Homo sapiens: one gene and its partners. The protein of the gene in region 1 purifies or fractionates together with the protein of each later gene. This does not show direct contact. Each region holds a gene or a part of one and is shown in the gene's direction. Other genes may lie near its edges.

Evidence for each region.
Region 2: the proteins of RIC3 (region 1) and LRBA purify together in Homo sapiens (affinity purification with mass spectrometry; 4 studies listed by BioGRID and IntAct, with this or other methods). This does not show direct contact.
Region 3: the proteins of RIC3 (region 1) and NCAPH2 purify together in Homo sapiens (affinity purification with mass spectrometry; 4 studies listed by BioGRID and IntAct, with this or other methods). This does not show direct contact.
Region 4: the proteins of RIC3 (region 1) and NCAPD3 purify together in Homo sapiens (affinity purification with mass spectrometry; 4 studies listed by BioGRID and IntAct, with this or other methods). This does not show direct contact.

What each region holds. Positions count from the first base shown.
Region 1 is NC_000011.10:8,166,021-8,173,609, reverse strand, and holds the start of RIC3 (protein RIC-3 isoform a precursor), read left to right. Parts: upstream 1-4,584; 5' UTR 4,585-4,620; coding exon 4,621-4,744; intron 4,745-7,589. UniProt on the Homo sapiens protein: Molecular chaperone which facilitates proper subunit assembly and surface trafficking of alpha-7 (CHRNA7) and alpha-8 (CHRNA8) nicotinic acetylcholine receptors.
Region 2 is NC_000004.12:151,012,268-151,019,707, reverse strand, and holds the start of LRBA (lipopolysaccharide-responsive and beige-like anchor protein), read left to right. Parts: upstream 1-4,423; 5' UTR 4,424-4,506; intron 4,507-4,846; 5' UTR 4,847-5,065; coding exon 5,066-5,281; intron 5,282-7,440. UniProt on the Homo sapiens protein: Involved in coupling signal transduction and vesicle trafficking to enable polarized secretion and/or membrane deposition of immune effector molecules. Involved in phagophore growth during mitophagy by regulating ATG9A trafficking to mitochondria.
Region 3 is NC_000022.11:50,511,214-50,518,235, forward strand, and holds part of NCAPH2 (condensin-2 complex subunit H2), read left to right. Parts: intron 1-4,506; exon of another isoform or gene 4,507-4,534; coding exon of another isoform or gene 4,535-4,561; intron 4,562-5,233; coding exon 5,234-5,335; intron 5,336-6,213; coding exon 6,214-6,269; intron 6,270-6,363; coding exon 6,364-6,448; intron 6,449-6,527; coding exon 6,528-6,596; intron 6,597-6,759; coding exon 6,760-6,839; intron 6,840-6,914; exon of another isoform or gene 6,915-6,919; coding exon 6,920-7,022. UniProt on the Homo sapiens protein: Regulatory subunit of the condensin-2 complex, a complex that seems to provide chromosomes with an additional level of organization and rigidity and in establishing mitotic chromosome architecture.
Region 4 is NC_000011.10:134,199,958-134,206,979, reverse strand, and holds part of NCAPD3 (condensin-2 complex subunit D3), read left to right. Parts: intron 1-247; coding exon 248-381; intron 382-2,008; coding exon 2,009-2,081; intron 2,082-2,808; coding exon 2,809-2,934; intron 2,935-3,073; coding exon 3,074-3,326; intron 3,327-3,781; coding exon 3,782-3,838; intron 3,839-4,074; coding exon 4,075-4,164; intron 4,165-7,022.

The sequences.
Region 1 (7,589 bases):
GCCTCCTGGGTTCAAGCCGTTCTCCTGCCTCAGCCTCCTGGATGGCTGGGATTACTGGCATGCACCACCATGCCTGGCTAATTTTTGTATTTTTAGTAGAGATGGGGTTTCAACACGTTGGCCAGGCTGGTCTCGAACTCCTGACCTCAGGTGATCCACCCACCTAGGCCTCCCAAAGTGCTAGGATTATAGGCCTAAGCCACCACGCCCAGCCCCCTACCAATACTTTATTGGAAAACCTAAACCCTTAAGATCTTCAATTTTAGTGCACTCCCAGCTCTGATGTTATACCACCAGCCACCAGAGAGAGCAGCCATCCCAGGTCCCACTCCAAGCTGCCCCAGCTCCATGAGCTGCCTACCAGCTCTGTCGCCTTAAGGAGGCTTCCATGTCTTCCAGGTGCACATCCCAACTGACTGCAACAATGAATATGTTCCAAGCCAAATACTCTGTACTATAACTGTGTTTTCACCTTTCTCTAGGCCACTTCTAGGACTAATGAGATCACGATCTCTGCCCATTTACCTTGGCCACCATCTAAATTCCAAGCCCCCAAGGTCATCAATTTGCACACTGCCCCTCATCTCCATCCTGCTCACTTCATATTTTACTTTGACTCCATTTCTGACTTCCAAAGCTTCCACTTACCGTGCTGTATAGAGTCAAGAGCTATCATCAGAAAAACTCCTATATCCTTGACTTCTTTGAAGTTTCTCTTAACTTTCTTCTTCTTTTTTCTTTTTTTTTTATTTTGAGATGGAGTCTCACTCTGTCACCAGGCTGGAGTGCAGTGGCGCGATCTCAGCTCACTGCGACCTCTGCCTCCTGGGTTCAAGCGATTCTCCTGCCTCAGCCTCCCAAGTAGCTGGGATTACAGGCGCATGTCATCACGCCCAGCTAATTTTTGTATTTTTAGTAGAGGTGGGTTTCAGCATGTTGGCCAGGATGGTCTTGATTTCTTGACCTCGTGATCCGCCCCCCTTGGCCTCCCAAAGTGCTGGGATTACAGACATAAGCCACTGCGCCCGGCCTGTCTTCCTCTAATGAAAACTAGGCTGTTGCCTCTGGGTTCTGTTTCCCTTGCAGATCTCCCAAAGTAAGAGCTATTTTTCTTCCCACAGCTTAAAGCCTGGGAATAGAATAGATGCCCAACTTGTTTCCCCTTGCTGCTTCCAAATTGCTTCTTCCTCTTCTTCCTTTAAAAACCATAGCTCCTGGCCAGGCGCTGTGGCTCATGCCTGTAATCCCAGCACTTTGGGAGGCTGAGGTGGGTGCATAACAAGGATCGAGACCATCCTGGCTAACATAGTGAAACCCCATCTCTACTAAAAATACAACAAAAAAATTAGCCGGGCGTGGTGGCGGGCACCTGTGGTCCCTGCTACTTGGGAGGCTGAGGCAGGAGAATGGCGTGAAGCCAGGAGGCGGAGCTTGTAGTGAGCCGAGATTGCACCACTGCACTCCAGCCTGGGCAACAGAGCAAGACTCCATCTCAAAAATAAATAAATAAATAAATAAATAAATAAAAATTTTTAAACAATTAAAAAAAAACACAGCTCCTTAGAAGAGCATGTCATCTGGCTGCCCATTACTTCTTCTGTTCCTGTCACCTTCCAACCTTGTAGTAACTCCACATTCATTAAAGATTTTAACACTTGGATCACTATTTCCCACCTCATTTCTGTCCTCATACATGGGAACTTCAACATAATGTTGTGACCTAGGTTTCCATTGTGGCTTCTTACAACTTCACATGAGCACTCTCACTAATGCCATCTTCTCCTAGACTTCATTTACTATAGATGGGCTGATGATTTCCTATTGTTTCTAGCCCAAACATCTCTTCTGAGCTCCAGGCCCATATATCCAACTGGATATTTCTACTTGGATATTTCATGGAACTTCAAATTCAGCTAGTCAAAATCTGAACTCTTCATCTTTCTCACAAACCTGATTCTTCTATTCTTAAAATCATGTTATATAGAATTAATGTCTACCATTTACCCAAGCTAGAATTTGGTGGCGGAGGGCGGGGGGGAGTGTGGTCATTCCAGACCCCTCTGTATTTCTTAGAGACCACATCCCATTAGTCACCTCCTCCCTAAGCTGCATCTATAGTCCAGGAGTCCAGAGGTTTTCTGACTAAACCTCCCCAGACAGTAAACCTGGTAGCTAAGAGGGCAAATTCTTGAGTAAGCATGCCTGTGTTCAAATCATAGCATCCAGTTTATACTGTGTAATTGTTGGCAAGTAAATTATGTTTTCTGGGGCTCCATTTTCTTACCTGTGAAATGGGTATATAATAATATTGCTTACCTCTTGAAGTTATTGGGAGGAATAATTATGATATGTAAGATGCCTAAAACATAATTAGTACTCTAACTTTTAGTGATGTTAATAACATCAATGATAATAATGCCCGAGTGAAGCCAGCAGTGGCACCCATCTGGCTGCATGAATCAAGGAAAGAGATTCAGAAGATATCCATTGCTTTAAAAAAATCAAACAATTTTTTTTTAGAGACAGGGTCTCACTCTGTCACCCTGGCTGGAGTGGGTGCCCCTACTGGCTTCATTCAGGCATTATTATCATCTTATATATCATAATTAATTGTGGTTTCACACAATCATAGCTCACTGCAGCCTCAAACTCTTGGGCTCAAGTGATCTTCCCACCTCAGCTTCCTGAGTAGTTGGGACTACAGGTGCACACCACCATGCCTGGTTAATTTTTTACATTTTTTTGGTAGAGATTAGGGCTCTCCCTATGTTGCCCAGGCTGGCCTTGAACTCTTGGCCTCAAGCCATCCTCCAGCCTTGGCCTCCCAAAGCCCTGGGATTATAGGTGTGAGCCACTGTGCCCAGTCTCAACTGCTTTTTAATCAGATTTCCAGCCAATCCTTCATTCAGACCCACTCTGCACCCTTGGCTTTAAAGGAACCCAGTACCTCCAATTCTTAAGAGCATGGGTTCTGAGGGGCAAATTAGTTCACTCCTTACAGGCTTTCAGTCCACAGGCATTTAACTTTTTATGCTCTACACCTGCACTGTCTACTGTGGGCGCCAACGAGCCACACTATCGTGCTGATAAAATTTGAAATATTTTTGCTATCTTGGTTTAAAATATTATTAAAATAAATTTTACTTATTTTTACTTTTTAAATGTGGCTACTGGAAAAATTTAAATTACATATGTGGCTGGTATTATGTGTCTATTGGACAGTGTTGTGTGCGTCTTACAAAATTGACATTTCTCATCTGCTGTCATGTTTTCTATCATTGCATTTAGTCTTGTAGTTTATATACTTTATTTCTTTATTTTCCTTTTTGGGCACTGTCCCAGGAAAGCAAAGATAAATGCATATGTTACATCTGTCATGTTTAACTGGAAGTTCTACCTAAGCTTTTCACAATGTAGCTCCTGCTTATATTTGTGCACTTCGTGTCCTGTCACTACTCTATGGCCCTGCCAAAATGAATTACCAATAGCTTTCTGAACACACCAGGAAGCTTCCAGATTTGCCTTTATTTTTTTGGCCTCCTTTTTCCGGAATACCTTTCTAACCCCTCCCACCTGTCTGCCTATAAGTTACTCATTTTTCAACAGCTAACTCAATTTCACCTTCTCAAAGGGGCTTTTCTTGACTTTTCCTCGTACCAGTTGAGAAGACTGCTCGGGGATCCAGAATATTTCCTGCATTTTTTTTGTTTGGATAATTATCTGTCCTACAAAGGGAATCCATTTTATTCATCAGACCCTGTAGTGCCAAGTTGAGGGTCTAATACATAGTAAAAACTAAAATAATGTTAAATGAACGAATGAAGAGAGTAACAAAGAACGGTGGGATTGTAGAGAAAGGAGAGGCTGACTGAAAACGTTTCGAGAGAGCAGTGTTTTTAAGCTGTTCTTCAGAGAAGTTTTTGACAACTGGAGATGGTGTCAGGAATTTTCCAGGCAGTGGGAACAGGACAAGCAAAGCTTCCCTGAAGACAAGCAATATGCTAAAGAAATAGCAAATCATCCAGTTTGGAAGGAGCATTGGTAAGACCAGATCATGCAGGGCGTTGAGGTTATAGAAAGGAGTTTAACTATTGTTCTGAAGATAATGGAGAGTTAAAAGGTTTAAGCTGGAGAGAAAGAGAATTAGTCTTGTGTTTTAGCATTATCACCTGTGGCTGCAGACGGATAATGAATGCGAGGGGCATGAGTGGAAGCTGGAAGACAGCGAGATCATGGAGATGAGGAGAAACTGGATGTTGTGATCTACGGGTGGGTGGGGGGCAGTGGTGGTAAGTGGGGATAGAGATCCGGGCACGACCGCCGGATGTGTAGGCGGTAGAATGCACAGGACTCAGTAAAAGATGAACATGGGGAGTGAGGGAGGAGTTTTTAGTTAGTATGAACGGGAAGGCGAGGGTACCATTTACAGCGACGGGTAACCACGCGGGAGGAGCAGGTCAACTCCCGACAGTGGAGGTGAAGATGCGTGCGCCTCGCGCACCTTGTCCCTCGCGCGACGCCGTCCGCGCCGCCCGCGGTTCGGTCGGGAGCGGCAGCCCGTGCTCCGGTTCCGGTTCCGGTTCCGGCTGGCGTCTGCACCTGCGACCACCGTGAGCAGTCATGGCGTACTCCACAGTGCAGAGAGTCGCTCTGGCTTCTGGGCTTGTCCTGGCTCTGTCGCTGCTGCTGCCCAAGGCCTTCCTGTCCCGCGGGAAGCGGCAGGAGCCGCCGCCGACACCTGAAGGTAAGAGCAGGCCAGCTCCCTCTGAGCTTCCCGGCGCCGAAGAGTACGGAGAACGCTGCTTGAGGGAGGGGTGACTCTGAGAGTCTGCAGCCTTCACCGAAATATCCACCAAACTGACTGGAGAGGGCGGGCGAGACGGCGTTGAAGGGCCAATGCCCACGGTTCCGTTGTTATCAGCGGGTGGCGGCCCAGATGGTTCTGCTGCTGGAAGGGTCAGGAACGTATGCATGCAGGTCTGTGCATCCTCTAGGTGGCCTTGCGTACTCCCGTTTAGGCGCAGTCCCTTCTCTCTTACCCCGCTGGCTTAACTCATCTCGTCACCATTTGTTCACGTGCTTTGAGTCAAGGGTTCCCAGTTGGGTTTCCCTCTTTAGGTTTTCCGTGTACTTTCTGACGCGCCGCTTGGTACGAAATCAAGGCAAATGGAATTGGTACAGCAAACCTTAAGTCGTTATGTTTTTTCAACTTGGTGCTGGGCGCTCACTGCTTCAGGCTCTTCTTGTGCCTTTAAAAATATATCTTGAAGATTTTAATAACCCCAGTTTCAGTTACTGAGGTGGTTATGAACAAATTATTACGTTCCCCTTATTGAAACAGTATTTATCTGTTAATTCTTCGTTGTTGGCATGATGTATGTGGTGTTTAAAAATTCATCCTCTTAGCTGCACTGGGGCCTTTTACAGAATGAGTGTAAAGGCACGGTGCTGAAGGCTGGGAGAAGGAACCAGAACAGTTTTCTATAGGTCATGAAGTTCTACTGGTAACTTTCTCCTGTAAATTATCCTTGTAATATCTTTGAGACATGATTTTACGGTGTCTGAACACTTCCAGTAATGTTTAAACTGTTGATTGCTGGACAGCTCCTTTTGAACTGTAATCCACTTCCGTCTGCTTTATGCACATTGACTGTAGTTCCATTCTCTTGAGCATCATACACACTATAAATGCAAAGCACCAAGCTTTAGGGGTGGAGGGCAGGTTGAACACATAATTCTGTTTACAGAATTTGCCTGATAATCTTTATGCTTGTAAGACTATCCACTTGGGACGGACTTCTAAAACATCTTTGCGTATTTGTTCTTTTTTTTTCCTTTCTGTCTTATTGCAATAATCCCAAAGATTTTTACCTGCTTTGTCTAATGATATTGTCTACTTTGAAGAAGAGTCAATTCATGATGATCCTGAACAGTGAAGATTCTTCGAAAACTTTTTTTTTTTTTTTTTTACTTTCCATTATGGTGAATTATCTTGAACAAGTACTATTGACTGTGAGTGGGAGACACTCTTCTGAACGTTGTAGAAAATGTAGAGTGGAGATTAGACATGGGTTGTTCCCTTGAGAACTCAAGTGTTGGTATTCAGTGTTCTCATGTTAGGATCTTTGTACCTTCAGTTCTCTTTATTCCTGAAGTGCTGTGCTTTTCCCTCAGTGCCCTTCTCATCATTCAAATTTCTGCTCAAATGAAACCTCCTCAGAGAGACTTCCCCTGATGACACTAACTAAAATAACTCTTTTCTCCCATCATTCTCTATTTTATCATGTTTTATATTCTTCATGATAGGCATCACTATATGATATGGAATATTCTTAAGTGTTTACTTGTTTGTTTTTTTGTCTTCACCTTCTAGAATGTAAGTTTGCAAGGGTAGGGACTTTGTCTTGTTTACCACTGTTTCTTCAGTACCTGGCATATAATGGGCAGTCAATAAATACTTTAAGATTATTAAGCTACCAATACTGTAAATTCTGTTTTTGACAAGGAGAAGCTACTGAAGTAGTATAACCTAGGAAAAAACTTACCTTGAATGGTACATTCCAGTAACTGAAACTTGCAGCAAAAAATCTTAACCATTTTGGGGTTACATACACCATTGAGAATCTTATAAAAGCTATGTATTTTCTTTCTTTCTCTCTCCTTCCTCCCTCTGTCCCTCCCTCCCTCCTTTCCTCTCTTCCTGGCCCCCTTTCCCTTTCTCTTTCCCTTTCCCTGGGTCTCACTCTGTCACCCAGGCTGGAGTGCAGAGTCATGATCACAGCTCACTGCAGCCTCTACTTCTAGGGCTCAACTGATCCTCCCACCTCAGCCTCCCAAGTAACTGGGACTACAGGCACATGCCACCATGCCTGGCTAATTAAAAAAAATTTTTTTTGTTTTTGGTTGAGATGGGGGTCTCATTGTATTGTCCAGGCTGGTGTCGAACTCGTGGGTTCAAGTGATCCTTCTGCCTCAGCCTTCCAAAGTGCTGGGATTACAGGCTTGAGCAACTGCACTCAGCCTAAAACTGTATGTTCTCTCTAGAAAAAGGTACATACTCTTATTGTACTCAGAATTTCAGTATCAATTCAGAGAATTCTCAGAACCCAGAAATCCCTGCTTTGAAGAAAGGAATAACCCTGAGTATTTGAAAATTCTTAAAAATACATGTTGTTATGTCTTCCATTTTTGCCCATTGATGTGCATGAAACAAGCACAGTTCCCTTTCCACATGAAAGCCTTTAAGATAGTCTTTTAACAAATATTTATGATGTACCATATCACATACTGTGCACATAGTGTATAGACACTATGTATTCCAAGAAAAAATGAGCGAACTCCATGCTTTGAGGCGGCCACAGTTTAGTAAAGGAAAGTAGACATGTCAACAGATAAATGCAAAACAGACATGTTAGCAGATAAATGCAAGAGTGTCAGTCACAGTTACTCAAGTCTGCGCAGGGAACAATGGAGACATGTATGCAATGGTCAGTGTTATTGGGACTTAAGAAGGGTTTCATAAACCAGGTGTGACAGCTCATGCCTGTAATCCCAGCATTTTGAAAGGCTGTGGTGGAAGGATTGCTTGA
Region 2 (7,440 bases), on another chromosome or scaffold:
GGACCATACCTGGCTAATTTTTGTATTTTTTGTAGAGACGGGTTTTCACCATGTTGCCCAAGCTGGTCTCAAACTCCTGAGCTCAAGCAATCTGCCCACCTTGGTCTCCCAGAATGCTGGGATTACAGGCATGAGCCACCACCACGTCTGGCTTCCCCCTACTTGTTTTTGATATGGGGTCTTGATTGGTCACCCACGCTGCAGTGCAGTGGCAACATGACAGCTCACTGCAGCCTCGAACTCCTCGGCTCAAGTGATCCTCCCACATCAGCCTCCCCAGTAGCTGGGACTACAGATGTGTTCCACCATGCCTGGCTAATTTTTAAAACTTTTTGTAGACAGGAGGTCTTGCCATGATGGCCAGGCTGGTCTCAAGCAATCCTCCCCTCTTGGCCTCCCAAAGTGCTTGGATTACAGGCATGAGCCACTGTGCCCAGCCAAGATACCCATTCATACCAGGATTTTCCTCCCTGTCACTGCTAATAGCTGTGTAGGCGCAGACAAGGGCTTTCAGGTGAGAAAAATTAAAGCAAGTAACTTTAGAGTTTCGACTCAATCCAAATAATATGAATACCTGTAATGTGTAAAGTATTGTGCTATAAAGGAGCTTAAGATTTGAGGCAGATAGTTCATCTGGAATCATTCCAAGATTCTATGTCGTACACCTAAATAATAATCCACAATGATTGCATTTTATTTATTTTTTGAGATGGAGTTGTGCTCTTGTTGCCCAGGCTGGAGTGGCCAATCTCGGCTCACTGCAACCTCTGCCTCCTGGGTTCAAGCGATTTTCCTGCCTCAGCCTCCTGAGTAGCTGGGATTACAGGCATGCGCCACGTAATTTTTAGTAGAGATTGGTCAAGCTGGTCTTGAACGCCCAATCTCAGGTCATCCACCCGCCTCTGCTTCCCAAAGTGCTGGGATTACAGGCATGAGCCACCGCACCCGGGCCTAGTGATTGCATTTTAACTGGCTTGCCTAGAAGTGAAGAGTTTCGCCTTCTACCTTCCTTATGCTTCTTTCTGCAGTGAACCTCCAATTTTTGCCAACTATTTTGTTTTAACCATGGGCAAAGAGGTTGAAAAATTTTTATAAATAGTTGACAATTTGTGCATATATATATATATATATATATATATATATGTATTTTTTTTTAGATGGAGTTTCTGCTCTTACTGCCCGGGCTGGAGGGCAAAGGTGTGGTCGTGGCTCATTGCAACCTCTGCCTCCCGGGTTCAAGCGATTCTTCTGCCTCAGCCTCCAAGTAGCTGGGATTACAGGCACCCACCACAACGCCTGGCTATTTTTTTGTATTTTTAGTAGAGATGGGGTTTCACCATGTTGGCCAGGCTGGTCTCAAACTCCTGACCTCAGGTGATCTGCCTGCCTCAGCCTCCCAAAGTGCTGTGATTACAGGCAGGAGCCACTGTACCCGGCATTTAGAAATATTTGGTTAATTGTCTGTGTTCATTGTTTCATCAGTAGAACAGCATTAACAGTGAGCTTGCAAATTTATGAGCTACAAACCTTAGCCCTAGATCATTTAGACTGTGATCACTCTGTGTTGGGGGCATTTTCATTATTATCATCTGCTTCTTAATGGAAGACATTTATTCATTTAACAAATACTTAATTAGCACTTATATGACAGATATATTAACACACCATTTGCCCCATCTGAGGAGACAAACTCCGATGAGAGGCCTTTTAGGATTAATGCCTCACTTTAGAAATACGGATGTGTGAAAGGTCAAGTGAAAGTTGTGTCTCTTCTGCAGGCACACCCTACTCCCCCTTATTCCAGAGTTATTCATTAATGATGTGAAACAAACTTGAGGTGTTTAGTTTTTCAGAGATTTCAGAAATGGGAAGCCACTGATGTCGCCTTTTACTTTGGAAATGTGTTGGCAATTCGGATCATCAGAAAGATGTCTGCTTCATCTCTGGAATATCTAAGTCTACTTACAGAAAACAAATCTTTAACAAACATTTGCAACCACATGAGATTTGGTGCAGTTGAATTCATTTTAGTATTTTTAAAACGTGTAACACTTTTCTAAAGAAAATATCCCCTTGCTTGTTCTTCTGCTTCTTTTTTAAAAAAATAGAGACCTTGGTCGGGTACGGTGGCTCACACCTGTAATCTCAGCACTTCGGGAGGCTGAGACGGGCAGATCACCTAAGGTCAGGAGTTTGAGACCAGCCTGGCCAACATGGTGAAACCCCACCTCTACCAAAAATACAAAAATTAGGCGGGCTTGTAATAAAAATAAAAAAAATTAGCGCATGCCTGTAATCCCAGCTACTTGGGAGGCTGAGGCAGGAGAATCGCTGGAGCCCGGGAGGCAGAGGTTAAGGTGAGCCGAGATTGCGCCATTGCACTCCAGCCTGGGCAACAAGAGCGAAACTCCGTTTAAAAAAAAAAAAAAAAAAAGAGCACGGGTCTTGCTGTTGCCTAGGCTAGTCTCAAGTGATCCTCCTGCACTAGCCTCCTAAAGTGTTGGGATGACAGGTGTGAGCTACTACACCCAGCCCTCCCTTGCTTTTTGCGTCTGTTACCTTTTTCTTCCCAAATTTCCATGTGAGAGTTAAAATTGTCTTTTTTTTTTTTTTTTTTTGAGACAGAATCTCGCTCTTCCTCTGTCACCCAGGCTGGAGTGCAGTGGCAATTCTCCTGCCTCAGCCTCCCGAGTAGCTGGGATTACAGGCGCCTACCACCATGCCTGGCTAATTTTTGTATTTTTAGTAGAGACGGGGGTTTCACCATATTGGTCAGGCTGGTCTTGAACTCCTGACCTCAGGCAATCCATCTGCTTGGGCCTCCCAAAGTGCTGGGATTACAGGCGTGAGCCACCGCGCCCGGCTTCTGTCCACTTCTCAAGGCCATCTCAAATAACTTTTTCTTCAGGAAACTATTTCTCAAACCACTATAATTTTTTCCTAAGTTCTCTAGAATTCTTCCTTTGTTTAATCCCACTTTTTGCTTCACTTTCATTTTAGGAGCTAGGCGTATTTTTAAAAAGGCCCTTTGACCTCAAAGGATACACGTGGGTGAAAAACCACCTTCCTCTAAATTTATTTTTCACTCACTAGGAAGAATGGTTTACTGTTAATAGCGGGTGGAAAGAAGGGACACTGAGTATGAGGACCTATCTGTACTACCTAATATAATTTATCTTTTGATCTACTCTGAGAATGACGCGAGCCTAATCTTCACATTGGAAAATCACGAGAGGAAAAAACCCTTCGGAGGTCTACAGGCACAAGGAACCCTGTCTCCACGCTGTTTATAGCAGCTGTCTCAGGAATCCTCTGCCTAGAATGAATGTGGGAGAGGTTTCGTGGCGCGGCAGCTGCAAAGCAAGGAATCTTTCCCATTCCTCGTCGACTCGGTCCCCTCCCCTCCCCTCCCGAATGGCGGCAGCTGCCGAGGTATCCCAGTGGAAATCTCCAAGTCTCCGCCGAGAGCGGCGGGCGGGCAACAGCTGAAAGCAGCCAGGGGTGGGGACTCCTCGCTCCCATTGGGCAGGGACAGCAGCCTCACTGGCTCCAGCGCCGTCACCTCTCTGGCTCGTAGAGGTGCCTCAGGTGTTCTTCTCCAAGTCCAATGAGACACCTAGGCAACGCAGCGCGTGTTCCCTCCGCGCCAAGAGACCCTACGGTAACTTAACAACAGCAGGAGCGCCAAAATCCCCGCCTCAGGACTTGGCAGAAGCACCTCCCGAGGTCCGAGAGTGGGAGAGGGGAAAGTGTAGGCCCTCGGACGGAAGGGTCTCTCCTCGCCGGGCCGGGTACACACCTGGTGCTACCAGAGCAGCGCGCCTAGTGCAGCCGGAAGCCCCAGCCCAGCACTCCGGCTGGCTCGGGGCCCCCTTGGCTGTCCGCGCGTCGTCACCGCGCCCCCGCCGCGCGGCTGCCTCCGCCTTCGCGCCCTCCCGCCCCGCGCACTCGCGCTCGCGCACGCGCACGCCGCGCCCGGCAGCACTCGGCGCTGTCATGGCGGCCGGGAGCAGCTTCAGTGGGCACACGACAGCCGCGCGACCCGTGGCGGGGCGAGCTGTGGCAGTAGCATCCTCACCACTCGCAGCAGCCTCAGCCGCGGCGCCCGTAGCGCCAGCAGCGGCTGCTTTTGCAAAGGCTGAGCGCAGGGGCGGGGCGGGCCAGGAAGCCATGGAGTTCTGTGCAGCCGCGGACTCCCGGGGAGCGGACTAGGGAAACTTGGAGGCTGCGACCAGGTGCACTGACCTCTCTGTCCTCCCTTCTCTCCCTGCGGTGGCCGCTGGGTTTCTCTGGCCGCTCCCCTCCCTTCCTGCCACCACACACACCTCCCCACCCCTTCCCGTCGAATCTCAGGTGCCTGAGAGAGGTGCTTCACTCCTCCCACTGGGCCGAGCATTTAGAATAATCACCGCCCCCTTCCCCCGCCTTTTCCTGCCCTGGATCTCCGCCGCCACCTCGGTCTCGCTGCTCCTGGGCGGGGGGTGAGGACGAGTCCGGAGTATCTGGGTGAGGAAGAACTTTCTACCTCTGTGATAGCTTGTGGGCCCCCCTTCTTTCCTCCGATCCCTCCTTTCCCCGCGACAGTTTCTCTTTCTAGTGCACCTGTGAGGAGAGGTTACCCTGCGCCTAGAACCTGCACGAGAGTGGGGGAGGAGTGAGCCTGTTCGGGGGCCTCTTGGACCTGCCTTCACCCAGAACCCAGCTTTTTGAGCCCGGGAGAAGCGGGTGGCTAGTAGTGGGGTGCCTTTAGTAACTTACTTGACCGACAATAACTATTTCCCTCTTGTCCCCTCAAAACCCTAAAACAAAACCTAGCCTATTTAACATATATTTAATCTTCCAATAGGGTTTGGCGTTGTTGTCAGCCTCGGGGAGAGAGATTGGACAAATATTCTCCAAGAGGAGGAGGGCGACGCCAAGGACTTTCCACATCAACTGCTTTGGGGTATCTCCACAAGTTGGAAGAGGGACCCTTTCGTTTTGCATTGCGTGTGTTGTGCTCATTACCAGTGCAGCGACTGCCGTCCCAGGGTGACTCTGAGTTGTCCTTTATCGTGAGCTAGCAATGGCTAGCGAAGACAATCGTGTCCCTTCCCCGCCACCAACAGGTGATGACGGGGGAGGTGGAGGGAGAGAAGAAACCCCTACTGAAGGGGGTGCATTGTCTCTGAAACCAGGGCTCCCCATCAGGGGCATCAGAATGAAATTTGCCGTGTTGACCGGTTTGGTTGAAGTTGGAGAAGTATCCAATAGGGATATTGTAGAAACTGTCTTTAACCTGGTAAGTCCATGAATATTTTATAAGCATATACTCTTTTCAGTGGGTTGGGGAACAAGATCTTAAAGCTGGAGCCATGTGGTTTACTCACACTGATGGTGACTTTTTTCGTGTATAGGGACACAAAATTCTACTCACCTAAATGAAACAATTTCATCTGTTTTTTAGATTGAAGGGAATTGTGCAAACTTAGATGATCCAGGTTTTGTGAAAGTGAACACATCACTTTTGTGCTAAGGAAATAATTGTTGCTATGGAAGTATTGGGGGGAGGTTCTAGCGGAGGAGTTATCTCTAATTTTTTTTTTCTTGGCTTGTATGCCTAAGTCTGCGTTTCCCTTTACCACTTTAAATAATTTCTTGTGACCTTTTTTTGGACTTGAGAATTAATGTCTTTGATTCTGTCGAAGTTATGTTTTGCTACAATAAGTTTAAAAATTTGTTTGTAGTGCTGATGCAAGATTAATTTGCTGCAAAGTTAGTATTTTTAATTTTGACTAGTTTTATTTTTAGACATAACTAACAAAAGTTAAATTGGTGATGAATTTAGGATTGCATTTAAAGTAATCTTGTGAAAATTGAATGGCAATATGAAAAAAGGAATTGAAGCAGATACAGTATAATTTTTATGTGTTTTATAAATTCATGTCTAGCAGGAAAGCATAGTTAGTCATTGGAAGTTGCTGATTATACTAAGATGAGCTATGAATGCTTTTTTTCGGGTGGGGGTGGGAGGGGGATGAGGCCTCTCTATGTTGCCCAGGCTGTTCTCAAACTCCTAAGTTCAAGCTATCCTCCTGCTTCAGTCTTATGAGTAGTTGTGGCTATAGGCATGCATCACTGTATAGGGCTTAAATTGTTTTTAAATTGAGGTATAATTCATATATTATACAATTCTACCTTTAATTAATTCATTAACTTATTTATTTAGAGATGAGGTCTCACTCTGTTGCCTAGGCTAGTTTTGAATTCCTGGGTTCAGGCGATTCTCCCCTCTTGTCTCCTAAGTAGCTGGAACTACTGGCATGCGCCATTGTGCCTGGCTTGGTTATCATTTATAATGGAGACTTTTTAGATTTCTTTATTCCAGCCTCTCTTGCCCATCAACTTAAAGAATCAAAAGGAAATCTGGCCCTAAAATACTTCCCCCTTTTCTACCTACCCACCTGTGTTAGAGGATAACAGGACCAAATATAAACATGCAGTTAATTGTAATAACTGTTTAGCACCTTTCCCTTTGCCTCTTTTCAAGGTTAGGCTTGTTTTATTCTGGGGCAGTTAATTATTTCTTTCACTAGACCTTCTCTAATGGTCTGGTCACCTGCAGTACAACTTCTAGAATAAGAAAGTAGCTAGATGGAATTCTGGCCGGGCGTGGTGACTCACGCCTGTAATCCCAGCACCTCAGGAAGCCGAGGCGGGCACATCACTTGAGGTTAGGAGTTTGAGACTGGCCTAGTCAACATGGTGAAACCCCATCTCTACTAAAAATACAAAAAAATTAGCTGGATGCGCTTGCTTGTACCCAGGAGGTGGAGGTTGCTGTGAGCCGAGATCGTGCCAATGCACTCCAGCCTGGGTGGCAGAGTGAGAGACTGTTTCAAAAAAAAAAAAAAAAAAAAGAAATTCACTTACTTTTGAAGAATGAAAGCTTTGAACAATTGGATATTTCTATGTCAGTTTATTGGGAGTTTATGTATAAACACCTATAGACACACACATGCATATTTTAAAAAACTGCATATTATGGAAATGTTCAAATATATGCAAAAATAGAATAGTATAATGAACTCTGGTATCCGTTGTGCAGCTTCAACAGTTGTCAACATTTTGGGGATCTTGTGTGTGCGCATGTGTGTGGGGCTTTCATATGTAAGTCTGAGGAAGATAAATGGTAAATTGATTGCTTTACCTCAAAATAGACTTGAAACATTTCCTTTCTGATTTTTTGTTCTTTTTTAAAATGTCATATGCCTTCAGTGAGAAACAGAAATTTGTGGTAGTAATATAATCCATAATTACTTATTTGTGTGTGAAGACACAACATCTTTTGGCAGAAGGAGGATTTGAACTCCTGTTCTTTAGAATGTGCTGTGTTGGAGTGGATGACCAAACGTGAGTCATTTGCATTTTTATCATTAAAGAAAATCCAAATTCTATAGC
Region 3 (7,022 bases), on another chromosome or scaffold:
GTGCAGTGGTGCAATCTCAGCTTGCTGCAGCCTCCACCTTCTGGGTTCAAGCAGTTCTCCTGCCTCAGCCTCTTTTTTTTTTTTTTTTTTTTTTGAGACGGAGTCTCACTCTGTCGCCCAGGCTGGAGTGCAGTGGTGCAATCTCGGCTCACTGCAAGCTCCACCTCCTGGGTTCACACCATTCTCCTGCCTCAGCCTCCCGAGTAGCTGGGACTACTGGCACCCGCCACCACGCCCGGCTAATTTTTTGTATTTTTTTAGTAGAGACGGGGTTTCACCGTGTTAGCCAGGATGGTCTCGATCTCCTGACCTCATGATCCACCCGCCTCGGCCTCCCAAAGTGCTGGGATTACAGGCCTGAGCCACCGCGTCCGATCCTGCCTCAGCCTCTTGAGTAGCCGGGATTACAGGCGCCTGCCACCACGCCTGGCTAATTTTTTTTTTTTTCTTGAGACAGAGTCTTGCCCTGTGGCCCAAGTTGGAGTGCAGTGGCACAATCTCGGCTCACTGCAAGCTCCATCTCCTGGGTTCGCGCCATTCTCCTACTTCAGCCTCCTCAGTAGCTGGGATTACAGGCGCCCGCCACCACGCCTGGCTAATTTTTTTGTATTTTTCAGTAGAGACAGGGTTTCACCATGTTAGCCAGGATGGTCTTGGTCTCCTGACCTCGTGATCCACCCGCCTCGGCCTCCCAAAATGCTGGGATTACAGGTGTGAGCCACCGTGCCTGGCCCCAGCTAATTTTTGTATTTTTAGTAGAGATGGGGTTTCACCATGTTGGCCAGGCTGGTCTTGAACTCTTGACCTCGTGATCCGCCCACCTCATCCTTTGAAAGTGCTGGGATTGCAGGTGTGAGCCACTGCGACTGGCCACAAGCCATTCTTCAACTCATTTACCTGTTTGTGGCCTGTCTCCACCCTAGAATGTGAATTCTGCCAGGGCAGGGACCATACTTATGCCCTCTTTTGTCTGCTTAGTAGAGTGCCTGGCACATAGGTGTGGACGTTAAAGTGTTTGTTAAATGCACATGTGATCTGATGACCAAACTTCTCTGCTCTCATGCATAGTTGGCTGAGAAAATACGGGGAACTGTGCTGGGCAGAGCTCCTGTGGATTCAGGTTTTCACATCAAGCAGGGTCCATGAGGACACCTGTTCACTTGGTAAATCTCCTTCCTGGCTTGGTCAGCTCCCTTCCTGCTTTCTTATGTCTGCTCTTCCAAACCTCTGCAGCTTGAAGTCCTGATTTCCTGGTTTCTAGTATTATCTTTTTCCTTCTGTCATTTTCCACACACTACCATGATGTTCTTTTTCTTTTTTTTGTCCTTTGTTTTTTTTTTTTTGTTTTTTTTTTTTAGATAGGTTCTTGCCCTGTTGCCCAGGCTAGAGTGCAGTGGTGCAATCATGGCTCACTGCAGCCTCGATCTCCCAGGCTCAAGTGATCCTCCCATCTCCCAAGTAGCTGGGACTGCAGGCATGTGCCACCGCACCTGGCTAATTTTTTGTATTTTTGGTAGAGATGGGGTGTCACTGTGTTGCCCAGGCTGTTCTCAAACTCCCAAGCTCAAGTGATCCACCTGCCTTGGCCTCCCAGAGTGCTGGGATTATAGGTGTGAGCCATTGCACTGGCCAGAATGTTCTTCTAGTACTGTCATGATCCTACTCTCTTTTATCCATTTATTTATTCATTGTTGTTAGTTGTGAATTGTGTGCCAAGAACCATGTTAAACTTTGAAAAAATAGTGCCAAGCAAAGCAAATGATAATCCCCACTATGGTAGGACTTCCTCTGTCATGGGAAGACGGGTCCAAGAGAGTAACCGCATGGGGGTGTAATAAATATGCATTTGGTGTTTACTTGTGTTAAGCACCTGTTTTATGTGCTTTACACATATGAATGCAGAGTCCTCACAAAAACCTTGTTAGTAGAGGCGTTAGAGATGTACTCTGAATGATAGTGGTTCCTGGCAGATCAGAATCCAGCCTCCACCCCTGCGTGTGACTTTGTGTAGTCAGAAACTGATGGCCAGGCGAGGTGGCTAACGCCTGTGATCCCAGCACTTTGGGGGGCCAAGGTGGCTCACGCCTGTGATCCCAGCAGTTTGGGGGGCCAAGGTGGCTCACGCCTGTGATCCCAGCACTTTGGGGAGCCGAGGTGGCTCACGCCTGTGATCCCAGCACTTTGGGGGGCCGAGGTGGCTCACGCCTGTGATCCCAGCACTTAGGGAGGCCGAGGTGGCTCACGCCTGTGATCCCAGCACTTAGGGAGGCCGAGGTGGCTTACGCCTGTAATGCTAGCACTTTGGGAGGCCGAGGCAGGAGGATCATTTGAGGTCAGGAGTTCGAGATGAGTCTGACCAGCATGGTGAAAACCTGTCTCTGCTAAAAGTACAAAAAAAATTAGCCAGGTATGGTGGTGCATGCCTGTAGTCCCAGTTACTTGGGAGGCTGAGGCAGGAAAATCACTTGAACCTGGGAGGCAGGGGTTGCAGTGAGCCGAGATTGTGCCACTGCACTCCAGCCTGGACAACAGAGCGAGAGACTGTCTCAAAAACAAAAACCAAAACCAACCAACCAACCGAAAAAATCACCAGAAACTTATAAGGGATTTGAAAGAAAATGTATGGTCCTGTGGAGAGTTTGGGGGGCTTAGTTTGTTTGAGATGAAAGCAGTTACTTATTTATGGTGAGCTAAAGAATGTTTAGCTCCAGGTGGAGGAAACCTGGTGTTGGAAGGATTGGAGTTTTTACAAAAATTAGCCGGGCGCCTATAATCCCAGCTACTCAGGAAGCTTAGGCAGGGAGAATTACTTGAACCCAGGAGGCGGAGGTTGCAGTGAGCTGAGATTGCGCCCCTGCATTCCAGCTTGGGTGACAGAGTGAGACTCCGTCTCAAACAAAACAAAACAAAACAAAACAGAAGGTTCCAAGTTGGGACCATAGAGCAGAGGAGGGCAGGCAGCTGGAGAGGGAGGCTGGCCAGCATGGAGGCCTCCCTCTGGCTCCGTTTAGGATTTTGGGTTTTTCCTGCCACTGTTAGGAAAAACCCAAAATCCTAAACAGAGGCACTGAGCAGAGCGTGGAGAGTGGACGGGAGGGGAGTGAAGGGCAGGAGGAGCCCTGTCAGTGCAGAGGTGAAAGGGGAGGTGGTGGGGCCAGAATGGGGGTGACTGTGGAGAGGAACCCCTGGGTTTCTGGGCAGGTGGGTTGGGGGCTATTTGGAGTTCAGTGTGGATGCATTCAGTATGAATCTTGGTGAAGCCATCCAAGCGATGTTTGAAGAAGGCAGCTGAACATGTGGGTTTGGGCTCAGATGGCAGGTCCAACCTGGGGAGGTGAGAAGACAAGTGAAGCCCAGTAGTGTCTTGGGAGTGGGCAAGCCAGCCAGGCTGAGGGTCACTGGAGAGAAGGGCCACTTCTGCAGCTCAGCTTCCAGGCCGCCATCTCCTCCATGTTCCCTTCTTTCTGGACCAGCTCTTCAGGTCCTGAACACCCCCGAGGTCCTTACACTCCGTAGACGACCATGCTGCTGTTTCCTCTCCCTTCCTCCCAGATCTGACAAACACCCTTTATCCTTCAAGAGCTAATGGAAGTGACTCCCCTTGGGGATGGCTTCCCAGCCTCTGCCACTCCTTCGTGCTACCATGGTGCCTAAAATCTTGCCTCTCCCCAGCACGCGCCATGCTTTGGCCATGTTTAGATCATGCTCATTTTCCTGAAGAGACGTGTCCAGTCTCTGCTAGCTGCCTTCACGTTCCCTTCATCTGTCTGGTGAGCCTCTGCGTTTTTCAGGCTTAGCTTTGACATTATCTATGCATGTGTTCATCAAATATTTACTGGACACCAGTGTCAGGCACTGAACAGAAGGCTGGAATTACACTAATGCTGCTCACACAGTTCACTAAGGGACACGATCACACTAAGGGAGCGGCACAGAGGCCCCAGGAATGGAGGGGCTCTGAAAAAGAGTTTGCGTGGGGACAGCTGGGGGTCGGTGTTCCAGGCAGATGGAAATGCAAAATTGAAGAGCTGGAAAGACACCTAGGGGCTTCAAAGTGTCGTTTGTGGCTGGGCACGGTGGTGCATGCCTGTGATCCCAGTGCTTTGGGAGGCTGAGGCAGGAGGATCACTGGAGGCCAGGAGTTTGAGACCAACCTGGGCAACATAGAGAAACCCTGTCTCTACAAAAACATTTTTTTTTTGAGACGGAGTCTCGCTCTGTCGCCCAGGCTGGAGTGCAGTGGCGCGATCTCGGCTCACTGCAAGCTCCGCCTCCCAGGTTCATGCCATTCTCCTGCCTCAGCCTCCCGAGTAGCTGGGACTACAGGCGCCCGCCACCACGCCCAGCTAATTTTTTGTATTTTTAGTAGAGACGAGGTTTCACCGTGTTAGCCAGGATGGTCTCGATCTCCTGACCTCATGATCTGCCCGCCTCGGCCTCCCAAAGTGCTGGGATTACAGGTGTGAGCCACCGCACCCGGCCTTTTTTTTTTTTTTTTTTTTAAAGTGTCATTTGCTGAGAAGGAATACAGGAGATGAGCCAGCGTTGGGGAAGATGTTGGGTAAAGTATGGAAGTAAAGTGTTTGGGGACATTTGAATGTACTCTGTGGACAGCTATGAATGCAGCCCCAGAGCTAAGGAGAGAGAGCTGGTCGGGTTGGGTTTGGGGCTCATTGGCTTATGGTTGGCAGCTTGGGCATGGGATGAAGGAATGTGCATGGCGGGGGGTGGAGCGCCTGGCGCACTGACGTTTAAGGGGTGACAGAGGAGCTGGGGCTCCGGGAGGCTGAGGGGAGCAGAGGAAGGATGGCGACTCACCTGTAACTGTTTCCTGAGTTCTCTGCTCAGAGGATGGAGACCTCAGCATTTTATCTCTGCCTTTCCTACCCCTGAGGTTCCCTTTTCTTCTCTGTGTCGGGGATCTTCCTGCTGGAGTCTGTCAGCCTCTGGCGCCTTGTGGAGGGAGCCGCTGTGCTGCCCTGGTTGTTTGTAGACAGTGTGCCCTGGGGGCCTTCCACTTCCAAAACAGGTTTTTGTTATAGGAAGTAGGGGGAAACACAGAGACCTGTCTCTGCCCCGAAATACCAGGGACAACCGGTGAGCCCACAGCATAGCTAGAGCTGCCCGTCTCGGGAGGTGCTGGGCAGAGACCAAAGATGGGTGGGGCTGCCCTGGAAGAAGCGAGTGCAGACTGGGCCTTGGATTCCCCCTGTCTTTGTGTTGTTTCTTGCAGCTGGATCAGATCTGCATTTCTTTTGACGAAGGCAAGACCACAATGAACTTCATTGAGGCAGCGTTGTTGATCCAGGGCTCTGCCTGCGTCTACAGTAAGAAGGTGGGCCCTGCTTGACGCTGGTCTTGGCATTTTGGTGGCCAGTGGGACCACAGTCGGCTCTCCTTCTGGGGCAGGTGCAGTGGTCGTCCCGTCTGTGACCTACCTCCCTCTCTCCTCAGGTCTCAGCCAATTCCTCAGCACCTTCCAACACCAAGAACAATTTTTAATTTAAAATCGCACAGCCAGGCAGGGAGGGTCTTTTGTGCTGTTGGGCTCTGTTGTCTTGGGGGAATGACACCTGCTGTGTGCACTTGGACACAGCCCAGGGTGCCACCTGCACCCACCTTCCCCTTCCCCGTCCCCTACTTGTGGGTGCCTCATTGTCAGCACCTAGAAAGTCCACAACCACCACCCTCACGGTGGGGCCTCTGTTCTGTGGAGGAGAAGGACAGGAAGTGAGTGACGGGCTCTGTCCTGCAGGCCCCGTGGCGGCAGGAGCTGGGACAGGGCAGGGCCAGGACAGGAGGAGGGGCTGGGGTGATGCTGGCGGGAGCACACGGGCGGAGGAGCAGCAGGGCTGCAGGCCGTCGGCAGAGTGGGTGCCAAGCACGAGGGGCCTCACCACCAAGGACCGTGTGATGAGGCACACTGTGGGAACCACAGTGCTGTCAGGGTCACACGTTGAGAAGGCCACGCTCGCGGCTGCGTGGACCATAGAGGGCAGAGGAGAGATGTGGGTGGCCTCAGCTGGTAAAGTAATTCTCATGAGATTCCTGGTTTGATTTGAGAATTATTTTTGGAACCAAAATTGGTGGTTTCTTGTACTGGAGGTTTGGTGGTGGTGGCCAGGCCTCGTGGGGGCACCGATGGATAGCTGGGAAGGCCTTGGGGGTGGGCCCCTCCTTTCTGGGTCCTCACTGCCTGCATCTGGTCACCAGGTGGAATACCTCTACTCACTCGTCTACCAGGCCCTTGATTTCATCTCTGGAAAGAGGTGAGTTCTGCAGCCACTCACTGTGCTGCCCTGCATGTGGCCAGGGAGGCCCCTGCAGCTCCTGGGATGCCCACGGGATGTGCTTCTCTCTCAGGCGGGCCAAGCAGCTCTCTTCGGTGCAGGAGGACAGGGCCAATGGGGTTGCCAGCTCCGGGGTCCCCCAGGAGGCAGAGAATGAGGTGAGTTTCTTTGGCATGTGGTCCCCGCCCACTGTGTGTTTGCCTGGGCTCCGCCCCCACGAGCTCTGTCTCCCTCCAGTTCCTGTCGCTGGATGACTTCCCTGACTCCCGGACTAACGTGGATCTCAAGAATGATCAGACGCCCAGTGTGAGTCCTGGCCTGGCCCCTCTTAGGCTGGGGTGAGGTCAGCACTTTCCCTGGGGCTGTGTTGAGCTGATGGGGTGTGGGAAGGTGTCATTGCCCCATGTGGGTCCTGTTCTCCACTGGAGTGGAAGGGTGCCTGGCTCACCCACCCTTGGCCTCCATGCAGGAGGTCCTCATCATCCCCCTCCTGCCCATGGCCCTGGTGGCCCCTGATGAAATGGAGAAGAACAACAATCCCCTGTACAGGTAGGGATCTGAGCCCAGCGACGGGGAGGGAGGCCTGCCTGGGAAGGGTCTCTACAGCAGGCGTGTTTTTGCCAGCACAGCCGTCAGGGTGAGGTCCTGGCCAGCCGGAAGGATTTCAGGATGAACACGTGCGTTCCCCACCCCAGAGGGGCCTTCATGTTGGAGCCAGAGGGCATGTCCCCC
Region 4 (7,022 bases), about 130 Mb from region 1:
GAGAAACTAGGTATTGTTTTTATCAGACATATCATCTGTCAGCCATTCTTTCACACTGTTTACATTGTGCATTTATTGTATCCCTGCTCATTGTTTAAGAAATATATCCCTAGTGTTCAGCCAGCAATTATGCCAGCCTGACCTACCTTCAGATGGCTTGAAATGGTTTACTACAGTCTGCATCACTATGTCTGAGACCCTTGTGTTCTCCATCCGATCTTAAATTGAATTTTCTTTTCTCTTCTAGGTCATCAGTTGTGTTTTCCATCAAATGCTCAGTGTAATATTAATGTTAGAAGTTGGTGAAGGATCCCATCGTGCCCCCCTTGCTGTTACCTCCCAAGTCATCAACTGTAGAAACCAGGCGGTCCAGTTTATCAGGTGAAGCACACAAATCGTGAATTTTCACCCTGTCAGTCTCCCTCAGTACTCTGGGCCCTGCACTAAGATTTCTGATACATGTAGACTTAAAATTTCTGGCCTGATGGTGGTTTTGGGGGTGAAAACCAAGCACTTCGTAGCTAATGTGCTTTATGTGTCTGGGTCTCTGTTGGTAGGCTCCCAGCTGGGGCACTGTTAAAGAGATAGGAATCTGCAGAACACGGGCCAGCGCCAGCCTCCAGCTTGTTTGCGCTCAATATGTGGGTCAGCCTCAGAGAGAGGATGGTGGCCTCTCCTCCTTTCCCTTGTCTGCTTCATTGCAGCCAGTTCACCTCTTTCCCTTTTCTGTTGCTCTCTACTTTGCAGCTCTTTGCTTTTGTTCTTTGCCACTTTCTTCTTGTTTCTTTGCACTTTTCTATTCCTTTCCCTCTGTAGAAATGACTTGAAGGAAAGGATTGAGTTGCTTTTTACCTCCGTAGCAATAAGTGTTAGACTACTTTTCCTCTCATGGGTCACTCAGCTTCACTTAAAAACTCTCATGCCTTAGTTTCACTGGCAAGGACATGTTTGCTGCGTTGTTGGCTTTTCCTTCCCTCCTTCACTGATTTTTGGCGTGCAGTGTGGAGGTGGTGCCGAGACATGGTGTGCATGTGCAAGTGTGTGCATGCCTTGGGTGTGCACAGTGTGCAGGGTAGTTGGAGACATGGGGTGTGTATGACGTCATCTTGTGACTGAGCAAATGTCTCTCACTAAGGACTTTTTAAAACATTAAGTAACTAAAATGTTTTAAGTGAAAACACGATCGTTTCGTTTTTTCCATGAGAGTTTCTCATATGCCAGTCGCAATAGTCTTCATGTAATGTTACAGATAAACATCACTAAAAATGGATCAAGTCTGGGCATTGTAGAAATTTCTTCTTGAGGCGGGGCGCGGTGGCACATGCCTGTAATCCCAGCACTTTGGGAGGCCGAGGCGGGCGGATCACCTGAGGTCAGGAGTTGAAGACGAGCCTGGCCAACATGGTGAAACCCTGTCTCTACTAAAAAATACAGAAACTAGGCGTGGTGGCGGGCACCTGTAATCCCAGCTACTCGGGAGGCTGAGGCAGGAGAAACTCTTGAACCCGGTGGGGGAAGTTGCAGTGAGCCGAGATCACACCATTGCGCTCCAGCCTGAGCGACAAGAGCAAAACTCCATCTACAAAAAAAAAAAAAAGAAATTTCTTATTGGGTTAAAGTTTGGAGAAGTAATGTTACTAATGCATTTCACTGAGCTACCATGAGGTGGTACTGTGTCTTAGTCAATTTTTATATTTATCCCCAAAGGATATATTTTACATCTTCATATGAAATTTAGTAAGTAGTCAAAAGAATTGTATGAAGATTACATTTTTGTTCTTACCTGATGACTTAGCTACTCTGCAGCAGCTCTCAAAACTGCACGGGAACTACTTCACAGTTTTCTACGATGACATTTTATGTCTTCACTCTTCATTCTACTGAAACCACTCTTATAGCGTGAGGTAGAGTGTTTTAATAACTAGGATTTCTAAATATAGGAGTAGTGGTTTTTGGGGACAGTCGCTGACTGTATTGTGAACAGTAGATGTGTTTTTCTTTTACAAAGCGCCCTTGTGGATGAATTAAAGGAGAGTATATTCCCAGTCGTCCGTATCTTACTGCAGCACATCTGTGCCAAGGTACTGTTTGCCTTAGTAATATTAATAACATGGAAGTATATCGTGTGTGAAGATAAATGTGTGTGTGTGTGTGTGAGTGTGGGTATTTGTTCTTGGGAATGAGTGTGCATTGTTACTTAAAGTGGTTTTATTTAATGTTCACTAGATGGTCCCCTAGACAAAAGTGTTCTATAAAAAACAAAAAAACAAAAAAACTTTGTTTTGGAAAAATGTTGAACATACACACAGAAACAGGGAAAATAGGCTGGTGAACCACCACATACCCATCACCGAGTTCCACAGTTTTGTGTCACTTAAACCCCTACCCCACATCCCCCAACATGTGTATACTGGATTGTGTTTTGAAGCAAATTCCATCATATCCTTTCACGGTAATTCCTTAATATTATCAAACATCCAGTGTTCAAATTTCCATGATGATCTCTACATTTTTATAACCATTTAGACAAATGATTCTTAATTTGAACCTTATGAAACCTGGGGATCTAAAAACTCTCTGAAATTGTATACTAAATTTGTATGTGCATTTTTCTGGAGAGATGGTTTATAGATTTCCTTTAGATTAGTTTTGAAGTGTTCTAAAACCTAAAATTTATTAGTCATTTACGTAACATTTAAAGGTCATTGAACTAGTTGTACTCACTGACTTTCAACTTATATTACAGAATATGTTTCAGCCATCCTGCGGGTGGATATTGGTTGGTCAACTTCTCTTTTTGCTTTTCAGGTGGTAGATAAATCAGAGTATCGTACTTTTGCAGCCCAGTCCCTAGTCCAGCTGCTCAGTAAACTTCCTTGTGGGGAATACGCTATGTTCATTGCCTGGCTTTACAAATACTCCCGAAGTTCCAAGGTAGGAGATAGCTCTGCATAAAACCTTGGGTCCTTTTTAAACTCTTTTTAAAAGGGTCTCTTTTTCTAGGTCTGAATGAGGAGGGTTCTTTGGTTCTTACTCCTATCTGATGGCAATTCTTATGATCTTGCTTTACCAGATCCCACACCGGGTTTTTACTCTTGATGTTGTCTTAGCTCTGTTAGAACTGCCTGAAAGAGAGGTGGATAACACCCTCTCCTTGGAGCATCAGAAGTTCTTAAAGCATAAGTTCCTGGTGCAGGAAATTATGTTTGATCGTTGCTTAGACAAGGCGCCTACTGTCCGCAGCAAGGCACTGTCCAGCTTTGCACACTGTCTGGAGTTGACTGTTACCAGTGCGTCGGAGAGTATCCTGGAGCTCCTGATTAACAGTGAGTATGGCGACTATTGGGACAGTAAACCGGTCTTGTGCTCATTGAGAAATAGACTGCAAGGGAATCGTTCTTTTCTGTGGCAAAAGTAATAGGTATGGCATGATCTATTTTTACTCTCAAAACCATTTTTAGTATATTTTCTTGCCAAATAACTTTTTAAATAGGCAAGCCTGATACATTTGCAAGGCCTTTTAAAAGTATTTCAGATGTTCATATCTGAGAGGTGACATTGGTGGCTACCTTTACTGTTGCTTTGCATTGGTGGGCATTGGTCGTATTAGGATGAATCTCCGTTTCAATGCATACCCAAGGAGAACGTTATCAGTTGTCAGCAATTTAGAATCTGTCTGCCTTGTCTTTGAGCCTAATTATCTTGATTTTGATTCCTCCGTGGATAATTACTCAGTTTATGATACTGACTTCTTCCTTCTTATCTTTCTTCTTGTTTTTAGGTCCTACGTTTTCTGTAATAGAGAGTCACCCTGGTACCTTACTGAGAAATTCATCAGGTAATGGATCAATACATTTTCAAATATTGAATGATTATCTTTTAAAAATTTGTGGAATATTTAAAATGTTTTTCTTACCTCCTTATTTACCTGCTTTAACATTGTACTTTTTTCATGAGAGAGGTTGAAATTCATTTCAGTAATAATGTTGTAACTTAAATGAGTAACATGCCCTGCTAATGTTATTAAAAGTATAACACATTTTTAGCTTAATGACTGTAATTTTTTTTTTAAAGCTTTTTCCTACCAAAGGCAGACATCTAACCGTTCCGAACCCTCAGGGGAGATCAACATAGACAGCAGTGGTGAAACAGTTGGATCTGGAGGTATGTCAGATTTTATCACTGTCAGATAGGTAATACTGCTGGATTTCAGACAACCGTAAGTAGAGTCTAAAACCTTGGATTTTTTTTTTTTTTTCTGATTTATTCACCCCTAAGAGTTGAAACAGCTGGCTGGGCGTGGTGACTCATGCCTGTAATCCCATAATCCCAGCACTTTGGGAGGCTGAGGCCTGCAGATCACTTGAGCCCAGGAGTTCAAGACCAGCCTGGGCAACACATCAAGACCCCATCTCTTAAAAAATATATATAAAAATCAGCTGGGCGTGGTGGTGTGCCCCTGTGGTCCCAGCTACTCAGGAGGCTGAGGTGGGAGGATGGCTTGAGCCCAGGAGTTCCAGGCTACAGTGAGCTCTGATCATACCACTGTACTCCAGCCTGGGCGACAGTCTGTTTAAAAAATTAAAAAATGAAAATAACACTGCAGGGCAGTCTGCTTTTTTGTACCAGCTTAGTTACTAAATAGCTGCATGATCTAGGGGTATACCTGTCGTTTTCCGGTTGTAACACCCTCCCATCTTTCCCAGACGACTGTTGGGAAAGTCTGTAGAAACAACATTTAAGAAAGTGATTTAAAGAGAGAGAGACACAGATAAGAGAGAGAAAGAGCATGTACGTAGAGGATTAATTACATAATTGGGTTTATTAATTTATTCAATAAACCTTGATCTGGTCCTTCCCGATGCGTTCCAGGCATTGGAGATGCACAAGTCTGTGAGACAGAGCTCCATCTCTTAAGGATCAGTGGAGAGACAGGTGCTTGTGCACACAAGTGTTCTCATATATACAATTGTGCACACATGTATGCGGAACACTGAGATAGGTGCCGAGATGCACAGAAAGCGCCCTGAGGATGATTACATTACTGCTTTTATTATTCAGCCTAGAAGGTCAGCGTGAAATTGGGTTCAGGAGGCTAGATATTAGCATGTATTACTCCAATTCAGAGCGATAACTACATTTATAATAAACAGGTTTTCTAAATGTGGTAGGAAAATGTACTCTGGAAAAATGCTGAATGTTTGTGTTGGCTCCAGACTTCGTCTAAACAGGTTACGGATTTACGGTGGCACAGACTTTTTCAAGCAATATCAAGTTGAGGTGATTTAATGATGCTTAAAAATTATGAAAGTTCGGGGACGCAAAGAGCCCATGTTTCCAGTGCATTGTTCATAAGCTGAAAGGACATATATTGTTGGCATTAATTGTACATTAAAAATTTTGTATAGTCACTTAGATGCACTTTGCTCTCTTTGCTTTTTCTTATTAAGGCAGAGTTCACACACCATAAAGTTCACCATGGAAAGTGTATAATGTAGTTGTTTTAGTATAGTCACAAGATTGTACAGACTAATTCCAGAACATTCCATCAGCTGAAAAATAAACCCCATAGCCATTAGCAGTCACTCCCCATGCCCCTTTCCTCCTAACACTGGCAACCAGTAATTTTCTTTCCTTATAAAATTGCCTATTCTGGGCCAGGCGTGGTGGCTCACACCGGTAATCCTGGCACATTGGGAGGCCGAGACGGGAGGAGGATCACGAGGTCAGGAGATCGAGACCATCCTGGCCAACATGGTGAAACCCCGTCTCTACTAAAATACAAAAAATTAGCTGGGCGTGGTGGCACACACCTGTAGTCCCAGCTATGAGGAGGCAGAGGCAGGAGAATCGCTTGAACCCAGGAGGTGGAGGTTGCAGTGAGCCGAGATTGCGCCACCGCACTCCAGCCTGTTGACAGAGCGAGACTCTGTCCAAAAAAAAAAAAAAAAAATTGCCTATTCTGGACATTCCGCATAAATGCAGTCATGTACTGTGTTGTCTTTTGTGTCTGACTTCTTTCACCTATAGCGTGTTTTCAAGGCTCATTCATGTTATAGCATCTATCAGTACTTCATTCCTTTTTGTGCTGAGTAATAGTCAGTTATAAGGATACACCACATTTTGTTTATGCATTCATCAGTTGATGAACATTTGGGTTGTTTTCACTTTTTGGCTATTGTGACTAATGCTGCTGTAAGTATTCTTGTATGAGTTTTTGTATAGATGTGTGGTTTCATTCCCTCTGAGTGTATACCTAGGAGGAGAACTGCTGGGTCGTATGGTAACTCTATATTCAACATTTTGAGGAACCACCACACTTTTTCAAAGTGGCCACACCATTTTACAATCCTGCTAGCAACGTATGATAATCCTATTTCTCTGCATTCCTACCAACACTTGCCATGTCTGTCTTTTTTATTTTAGCCATCTTTGTGGGTATGAGGTGGTATCTGCTTGTGGTTTTGATTTACATTTCCCTAATGGCTAATGATGTTGAGTAAATTTTCATAGGCTTATTGGCCATATACATACGTTTTCTTTGGAGAAATGTCTATTCAAGCTCTTTGCCCATTTTTTAATTGGGTTATCTTTTATTTTTGAGTTGAAAGAGTTATTTTTATATATATACCTTATCAGATATATGATTTTTAAAGACTTGTCCCAGTCTGTGGGTTGTCTTTTCAAATGGTATTCTATGAGGCACAAAACATTTTAATTTTGATGAAGTCCAATTTATCTTTTTCTTTTTTTACTCATGCTTTTGGTATCACATAGCTAAGAAATCGTTGTGTAATCCAAAGTCACAAAGATTTACTCCTGTGTTTTCTTCTAAGGGTTTTATAGTTTTAGCTCTCACATTTAGGTCTTTGATCAATTTTCAGTTAATTTTTGAATATGGTGTGATATAGGGGGTCCACCTTCACTCCTTTGCATGTGACTATCCAGTTGACATAGCACTGTTTCTTTCAGCCTGTTCCTTCACCTGTGAGTGTCTTGGCACCCTTGTAAAAAAATCACTT